2 linked regions of the Homo sapiens genome follow. The main gene of each other region encodes a partner of the protein of the gene in region 2 in a complex. Each region holds a gene or a part of one and is shown on either strand. Other genes may lie near its edges. The genes, in order: NEDD4L and YWHAH. A codon is read from its position in the direction of its gene.

What was found.
Region 1: the proteins of YWHAH (region 2) and NEDD4L are in contact, whole or in part, in a crystal structure (PDB 7NMZ), measured with the Homo sapiens proteins. Residues at the interface, in NP_003396.1 of Homo sapiens: Arg12 (codon at 1,933), Glu15 (codon at 1,924), Asn39, Asn43, Leu44, Ser46, Val47, Lys50, Arg57, Lys125, Arg132, Tyr133, Gly174, Leu177, Asn178, Val181, Tyr184, Glu185, Leu221, Leu225, Asp228, Asn229, Leu232, Trp233; in NP_001138439.1 of Homo sapiens: Pro444, Arg445, Ser446, Leu447, Ser448, Ser449, Pro450, Thr451, Val452, Thr453, Leu454, Ser455.

What each region holds. Positions count from the first base shown.
Region 1 is NC_000018.10:58,042,296-58,046,195, reverse strand, and holds the start of NEDD4L (E3 ubiquitin-protein ligase NEDD4-like), read right to left. Parts: upstream 1,971-3,900; 5' UTR 1,536-1,970; coding exon 1,488-1,535; intron 540-1,487; exon of another isoform or gene 408-539; intron 263-407; exon of another isoform or gene 178-262; intron 1-177. UniProt on the Homo sapiens protein: E3 ubiquitin-protein ligase that mediates the polyubiquitination of lysine and cysteine residues on target proteins and is thereby implicated in the regulation of various signaling pathways including autophagy, innate immunity or DNA repair.
Region 2 is NC_000022.11:31,942,800-31,946,699, reverse strand, and holds the start of YWHAH (14-3-3 protein eta), read right to left. Parts: upstream 2,166-3,900; 5' UTR 1,967-2,165; coding exon 1,880-1,966; intron 1,867-1,879; exon of another isoform or gene 1,334-1,866; intron 1,201-1,333; exon of another isoform or gene 1,022-1,200; intron 1-1,021. UniProt on the Homo sapiens protein: Adapter protein implicated in the regulation of a large spectrum of both general and specialized signaling pathways. Binds to a large number of partners, usually by recognition of a phosphoserine or phosphothreonine motif.

The sequences.
Region 1 (3,900 bases), on a different chromosome or scaffold from region 2:
GGAAATTATTTTACAAAAGCACAGCGAGGCAAAATAAACACACAAATCACACATTATTTGCACTGTGATCATTCTTTGATCAAATAAATACATCAAGCTTTGCCTAGCACCGCTAAGAAAAAAATTCATACCCTAAACACCCTTCCCACCCCAAAATACCTTTCATTCCACACTTACGTAGCACACAGGCACACACACACACCATGCCAGGGTAGGAGAGCCGCAGAAAGCGGAGCCATAACGCGAGCCTGTCTCAGATAATAGCCTTTCTTCCAACCCCACCCCCAACACGAGAGAAAGAGGGAACCTCTGAAAAGAAAGGAGGGAGGGGAAGAAAGAGAAATCGAGAACGCCTGAATTTCCAGGCATCAACTTTTCATGAAATGCACAACCAGGATAGGAAATACCTCCCTGCTGAGTAATGCTTCTTGGGTTGTAAAATTCACCTCTCGAAAGGGGAGCCAGACCTGAGCGCGCACCCCGCCAGATGGCAAACCACTCCTACCTGCTCCATCCAGCCTGCCTGTCACGCCGCGCCCGCGACAAGCGTCCCACCCCCCTTTTTGGCAGAGCAACATACCAATAAGAGCCGAGCGTGGCTGGTCGAGAGAGGACTAGGCAGTGATTTAGCAGGATTGTTTCAAAAGGGGGGAGTGGGAGACACGGAAGAGAGAATGAAGGTAAAAACAAAGCCCTTTCCAGTGAAACCGACCGCCTGGGAGGCGTGGCTTATTCAGTCGCTTTATTAATAAAAGAGATCAATTAAGCTTTCCTCTCCCCACCCACCCTGGAGGTGCCGGGCTTTGAATCCTCGGGAGGAAAAAATGGCAGGGCTGCAAGCTTCCTCCCCAAGTTTCCAGGAGCACCTGCCACCAGCCTTGAACACCTCCCCCACCGAGGCTCCGAAATCCACAATCCTGGCCGTAGACTTTGCAAAACGAGGGGAGGGACACACGCAGCGTGTCCCCCATTCCCGCCGGGATAAGCACGCACAGGCTTCTGAGCGCCTGCTGATCCACACAATCATGAGAGAGAAAGTTCCAGGGGGAAACGATCCGGCTTCTCCGCAGTCCCGGGTCTCCAGCCGCGCGACCCAGACGTGACATGCATCATGGACTCCCGGGCTGCAGGGGCGAGAGGCGGAAAGTTGCCCAACAGCCCCGGGAGACGCTGCTTGGAGAGGAAGAGGGAAGAGAGGCACGCATGCCCCCTCCCTCTCCTCCCGAAAGCGAGGAGCTGCGGAGTGAACCCCCAGCTCCAAGGGCGTCGCGCCGCTTTATTTACAAACAATGAGCTCGGCTTGCGGAGGGTGGGGGGTGCGGAAGGACCCAAGCTCCCCTGGATCCCGCTCCGGGGCGCTCCCGCTTTGGGGCTCCCCTGCAGACGCTGGGCACGAGCACCCCGGGGACGGCCCCTTTCCCCTCCCCCTGCCGGCGCGGGATAGGAACTCCCCGGGGAGTCCCGAGCAGGAAGGGGGTGCCACTCACCTCGTCTTCGGAAAGTCCATAGACCGGCTCCCCGAGCCCGGTCGCCATGGAGCCGGCGCCCCGCGCGGGGTCTGAGGCGCTCCCAGCGGCTGTGCTGCGGCGCGGACGGCCGGTTCTCCCCTCTGCCTCCAGGTCCCCCCGGTCCCGCACCCTACCCTGCGCACGCCCTGCCGGGTAAGCGGCCGGGCGCCGGCAGGTGAGGGTGCCCGAGAGCGCGCCCTGGACGCTGCCGGCACCGCTTCCTCCCGGAAGGCTGCGGGACCAGCGGGCGGGCGGCTCCCGAGAGCGCGCCGAGCACCGGGCGGCAGCCCCGGCGCCTCTCACTGCGCGCGGCGGCGGCGCAGACCCGGCCGGGCTTTCCCTCCCCGCGACCCGCGCCTCCCTCCCGCCCCGCCGCTCTCCGCCCCCCTCCGAGCCTCCTCTGCGCTCCCGGGGACCCGGCTCGCCCGCCTCCTCGCTAGCGCCGTCCGGGCCCCCGCTCTCTCCGCCCCCTCCTCCGCCTCCTCCCACCGGCGCCGCGAGGGTACCCTCCCCGTTCGCCGGGGCGGGCACACGCGCCCCCCAAGCCAATCACAGGCCGGGCTGGCGAGCGGGCCGCGGGCTGCGGGGGTGGCGGAGTTCAGCCCCACGCCCACCCCGGCCCGGGGCCTCCAGCGCGGCGCGGCGGGGGTCACCCGGCCGCGGGGCGGATCCGCAGGGGCGTGTACTGGCGCGCTTGGCCGGCGCCGCCGACCCTCCCTCCTCTCCCGGTTTCCCTCCGCTTTAGGGAGGGGGCGGGCTGGACGTTTGGGGGCGATAGAGGATTTTGCGAACAATAACAAAAACGCCCTGAGCGTTTCTTCCTCCCGGTGGTCTTTTTACCGAGAGCCCTGAGCTCGCTGTTAACTGTGAAAAGGGGAAAAGATGGATGTTTCTAGACCCCTTTAAATTCTTTGCGGCCCCGACGAGCAGGACTTGGCTACATTGTCAGCTCCCGGGAGCGAGCCGCCCGGCCCGGCTGCCAGCCGAGGAGAGGCTGCCCCAGTGTGGCCGCAAGTCGCCATTGCCTGTGTCAACCTTGCAGGGAACAAAACCAACATAGCGCCCGCCCCGGTTACACACCCACCCACGCGAAAACAGACAGCATGGTTCTTTGAATAAAAAGCAGTTCATTTGTGAGCCGCAACGTGAAATATCAAACTCAAGCTTAAGGTTATCCTTTGCATATGCAAATGATCGAGACGTCTTATTAGCCACCGTAGGATTCTTCCCACCACCCAGCTACCGTTTCTCTAGCAAGCAGTTCATTTAATCCTTCCGATTTATAGGACTGCAAGAGACTACTTTAAATAAGTGAAAGAAATTCGTCAGTCGACTTTTTCGGAAGCCTTTCCTTAAATTTAGATGTTAAGTGCAGTTGGGAGTTCAAAAAGAAAACAGACGCAGAACATTCCATTTGCCTTTGAAAAGGAAACGTCAAAGTGCCTACTTGGGTATTACCAGGATGCATTTAGGATTTTCATTCAAGGAAGTTCAGAGAGAACTCGCGTGACCCGAAGGAATCATATTCCTCGTTGCCAGCTACATAACTAAATATCTGCTGTTCGCCCTGCTAGTTCGTTTTCAAAAGAGCCCACCCATGCTACCTTAAGCTCTCCTTTGCCTTCCTGCAGCATGACTGGCTTAAAACCTGTGCCGTAGAATGGGTTTCCTTTGACGACTTAGCCCCATGGAGTCAACATCCTACTCAGAAGCCTTCTCTAGAAGTCTTGAGCCGTCAAGTCCACAGTACTTACAGGCCACAAAACCCCCAATGAGAACTATTTATGGAGGACTATTTAAAAGTCAGATTTCTGTCCATTCTTTCAATACTGAGGTTTTTCAACCCTTTCAAACCTCGAGTCTTTAGACCGGGCACGGTGGCTCAAACCTGTAATCCCAGCACTTTGGGAGGCTGAGGCGGGCGGATCATAAGATCGGTAGTTCAAGACCAGCTGGCCAATGTGGTGAAACTCCATCTCTACTAAAAATACAAAAATTACCCAGGCGTGGTGGCGGGCGCCTGTAATCCCAGCTACTCGGGGAGGCTGAGGCATGAGGATCCCTTGAACCTGGGAGGCGGAGGTTGCAGTGAGCCGAGACTGCGCCACTGCACTCCAGCCTGGACCACAGAGCGAGACTCCGTCTCAAAAAAAACAAAAACAAAAAAAAACAACCCTAAAGTCTTTTGATAAACAAAAGGTACACGTGCACACTCTGTCTTTCTCTCTCTCTCTCTCACACACACACACACACACACACACGCATTCTCAGATGCCCTTGCCCTAGCCTGTGACCCTCATGGATGGGAGTCAGTGCTTCTCTACCTACCCTCACTAGCCAAACCTTTGTAAAATTTGTACAGTTTATATTATAAAGGAAGAAAAGTAATTGA
Region 2 (3,900 bases):
TCTCCATTCTTGCCTTTTTCCCCCATTTCAAGTTGCCTCAGGTTTCTGATTGTTCCAGAACACACCTTCTAGCCATTTTTCCTTAACCTCCATTTCCCCTTCCTTTAAACCTCGTCCCTCCTTTCTTTTCACCACATTTATTTCCCAAAGGGCTCCGAACACTGCAGTCTTTACGTCTCACTTAGAGGGTGAGCAACCACTTCATGAAAATGTGTGGAGAGGCCTCAGCCTGCATAATCCCAGCACCACTCAGTTACTGGGGAGGAGGGGCTTAAGTGTGACCTGCTGTGGACAGAGGCAGCTTTATCCCACAGAAAATTAAGGTTCAGGGTCCCTTCCAAGGAAATGCATTCGTCAGTCCCATTTTTGTAAAATATGCAAAACTATATTTTAGATTTTCTTTTAAAGGACCCCCTGAATTACATAAAGTTCAGCCTCCAGACCTAGACCGTCCCCCGGTCTGGAAGAAAACCTGCCTCACCACAACAGCATGCTAATAGTGCTCAAGTCAAGATCACCAACAAATCAACATACGGGCAACGGTGTTGCTGGTTTCCAAACACACCCAGTTATGTGTGTAACAAGGACACCAGAGGAAAGGCAACTCTTCAAGCACCTTTCTTACCTGAACAATCCTAAATATTGGCCCCAACTACATATTTCATCTGATATTAACATCAAAAGCCTTCAAATGAGCTTTCCAAATGACTTAAGATTTTAGGGAGCCTTTGTATTGGCAGTTTTTTTTCGGAACTCCCTCCAAAAGGCCAGCAAAGGATACATTTACTATAATCATGGGCAGTAATTCTCAGACTTAAGCCAGCTAAAAATCGCCTGTGAGAGCTGGTTACAATGCAGATGTCTGAGTCTCACCGCCCGAATTTCTGAATGTATAGGTCTAAGGCGGAGTTCAAGGGGATCCTCCCAGGTCTCAGGAGGTTGTACACTGAACATAGGTTGGTGGTCGCAGTTGTTCTACCACTGTGTGACCTTGACGCAGGGAGAGGAAATATTCATTTACAGAAAACGTAAAATAACGTGGAGAGAGAGTGAGATGGTAACCGGAACTCAGAAATGCAGGTGGTGTGTGACCCACGGTATTTTGCTAGGGTGTGGCTGGGCACGACTCATCCACCGGAGAAGCTGCAGAATCGATTTATGAGGGTCTCAGGAATGCAAAGACACACAGATTCGTCTCACCTAGAAGTCACGTTTCATTTTAATCTCCAAGCAGACAGCGCAGCAGCAAACCTGGGGCTGTGGAGTGGGGCCCCACACCCTCCGCCCACTCTCCCGCCCCCGTCCACGCCTAGACTGCAGGAAAGGGGTCTTCGCACACAAAGCCAGACCCCCAGGCGTGGGAAGATGGAACCAGAACAATTCGAACGAGCAGAGCAAAACAGATCGGAATTGCAGACTTCAGGTCGTGGCAGAGAAAACCAGCTGAGACAGGGCGCCACTTACTAGGTGATTCTTTATTCCAAGTTGGGGAACGGAGGAAGACGAGAGGGGGAGCCCCCGGGTCCGGTGAAACGCTCTAGGAGAAATGCGGCTCCTTCGCGTCCCCTAGGGCACCCTCTGCCCCCGGCCGGGTTCCGAACTAAGATGTGGCGACCCCGACCGGCCCGCCCCCCTTCCGGGGCTGCCTTCGCGATCCCGAACTGCACCCTCCCGGATCCCCCACCCTGGGCCCAGCCTCAGGAAGTGGCGGGGCGCCCAGCGGGAGCGGGAAGCGCGGGCTAAGGGCGGGCGGGCGGCCACGCCCAGCCGGGTCGCCGGGTCGCCCATGGCCGGGAGGGGAACGCGCCCGCGGCCATCCCCGTCCCTCCCCAACGCCAGGCCCCCCCCGGCCAGCCGCCCGGGCTCCCGGCGCGCTCACCGCCTTCATAGCGGAGGCCATGTCGTCGTAGCGCTCCGCCTGCTCGGCCAGCCGCGCCCGCTGCAGCAGCTGCTCCCGGTCCCCCATGTCGCTCGCGGCTCGGCCTCGCCTCGCGCCTCACACCGCTGGCTCGCTAGCCCTCCCGCCGGTCAGTCCGCTCCCCGGTCGCTGCGGAGGCCGCCGCCGCGCACGCGCACTGGCTCGCCGGCCGGCCGGAGGCTGCAGGCTGCAGGCTGCAGGCAGCGCCGCCGCTCGCGCCCTCTCGCTGGCTCGCCCCGCGCGCTGTGGCTCGCGCCGCGGACAACGCCGAGGGAGGAGACGCGGCCGCGCTGGGGGATGGGAGGACGGGACGACGCCTGCGCAGTGAGAGTGGCCAGGCCGGGCGGCGGGGAGCGGCGGGAGTGGGAGGGGGGAAGGGCGGGCCGGCCCTAACGGTCTATTTCAAGGTGACGTCACCTACTATAAATAGCCACCGCCGCCGCCGCCGCCCGGCCTGAAAGCCGCGCAGGCGCTCTGCGAGTGCTGCATTTTACCGCCGCAGAGATGGAGGTGGAGAAGGGAAAGCCGGGCAGGAGACTGCGGAGCCGGTGGAGGGGGCGCGGTGATGGCGGCTGCACAGGCAGTGCATTGTCATAGCCCCACCCTGAAACGCGCCACTCCATCCACGTTAGAGATCTGGCTTGAGAAGGGCCCCAAAAGCAAGCAAACATACTGGCGGAGAAGCCGGGAGACCGCGTGCCCCGAGGGGCGGGTCCGCCCAGCCCCGCCCCAGCCGTCCCGCCCGCCCCGAGCCCTGCCTGTCCATGCGTTCTGCTGGGCCACACCTTGTACTGGTCCGGGCAGGATCGAGTCCGACCCTCGGGGACAGCCCCGCTACACAGACACACACAATCGAACCCAACCTGAGACGTAGCCTTGGGCAGGCTGTGCCTTCCACCAGAGGAGGGGACTGGGTGGCCAGGGCGGGACAAGTAATATTCAGGACACATTAGGAGCCAGCCCAGTGCTAGTCCCGTACAAGCATCCTCCTCTTTAATCCTCACTACCCAGCCCACAGTGGGCACAGCTGGTCTCCCCATATTTAAAACGTGGAACCTGAGGAAAAGCGAGGTTAGTGACTTGCTCAGGGTTACGCAGCCTGTAAGTGGTGGGGCCAGGATCTGAGTCCAAACCCAGGCTGAACTTTCTCTTGTGGCAAAGAGCTGGGGTGGCCCAACTGGCTGGTCACTGAGCCCCTCCCAATCCTGGCTGGTATTGGATGCTGAGGGTCCCTTGTGCCAGGCCCTGGACTGGGCTGCCCGACAAGCTAGGAAAATGATGATTAAAACAAGGCCCCCACTTGATTTCAACACGCCAAGGGCAGTGCAGGAGAGGGGGCCTTGGGCTCGCTGAGAATTTTATTGAGCATCTACTGCATGCTCAGCCCACAGGGATAAGCTGGATCTTGAAGGAGAGTCAGGAAAAAGATTAAGGCCTGGGGTACAGCATTGGCAAAGGCTTGGCAGTGACCTGGGAGATGGTGAGAAGAGAGGCCTAAGAATGGGAAGTGAGGTTGGGTAAAACAAGATTACGGAGTCTTTTAAATGCCAGGCCAAAGATTTGAGGCTTCATCCTTAGGTAATTGGGAAGCCATATTTCAGGCCTGGAATCTTGCTCTAGAGAGTAAGACATGTTCGAAGGGAGAAGGGAGGGAACTGGAGACCAGGCCTTTTCTGGACCTGTTTTCCATCTGGAGAATTGGACTTAACTGTTTCAAGGACTTTAGAATAGATATCCACATGCTGAAATGTCAGAGCTGGCAGGACCCTTAGAATCACCCCTGTCTAACCCCTTATCCTGAATAACGGGAAACTGAGGTCTGAGGGAAAGGAGGGGCTGGCCCTAGTTTGCACAGCGAGTGAGCAGAGCTGGGGTCTCCATACCAGGTTTCCTGCCTCCCAGGCCTTCCTCTTCCTGCTATGATGCTGAAACGATCACACTTCTGGGGGCCCATGAAACAGGATTTGAATGTGGGTCTAGGA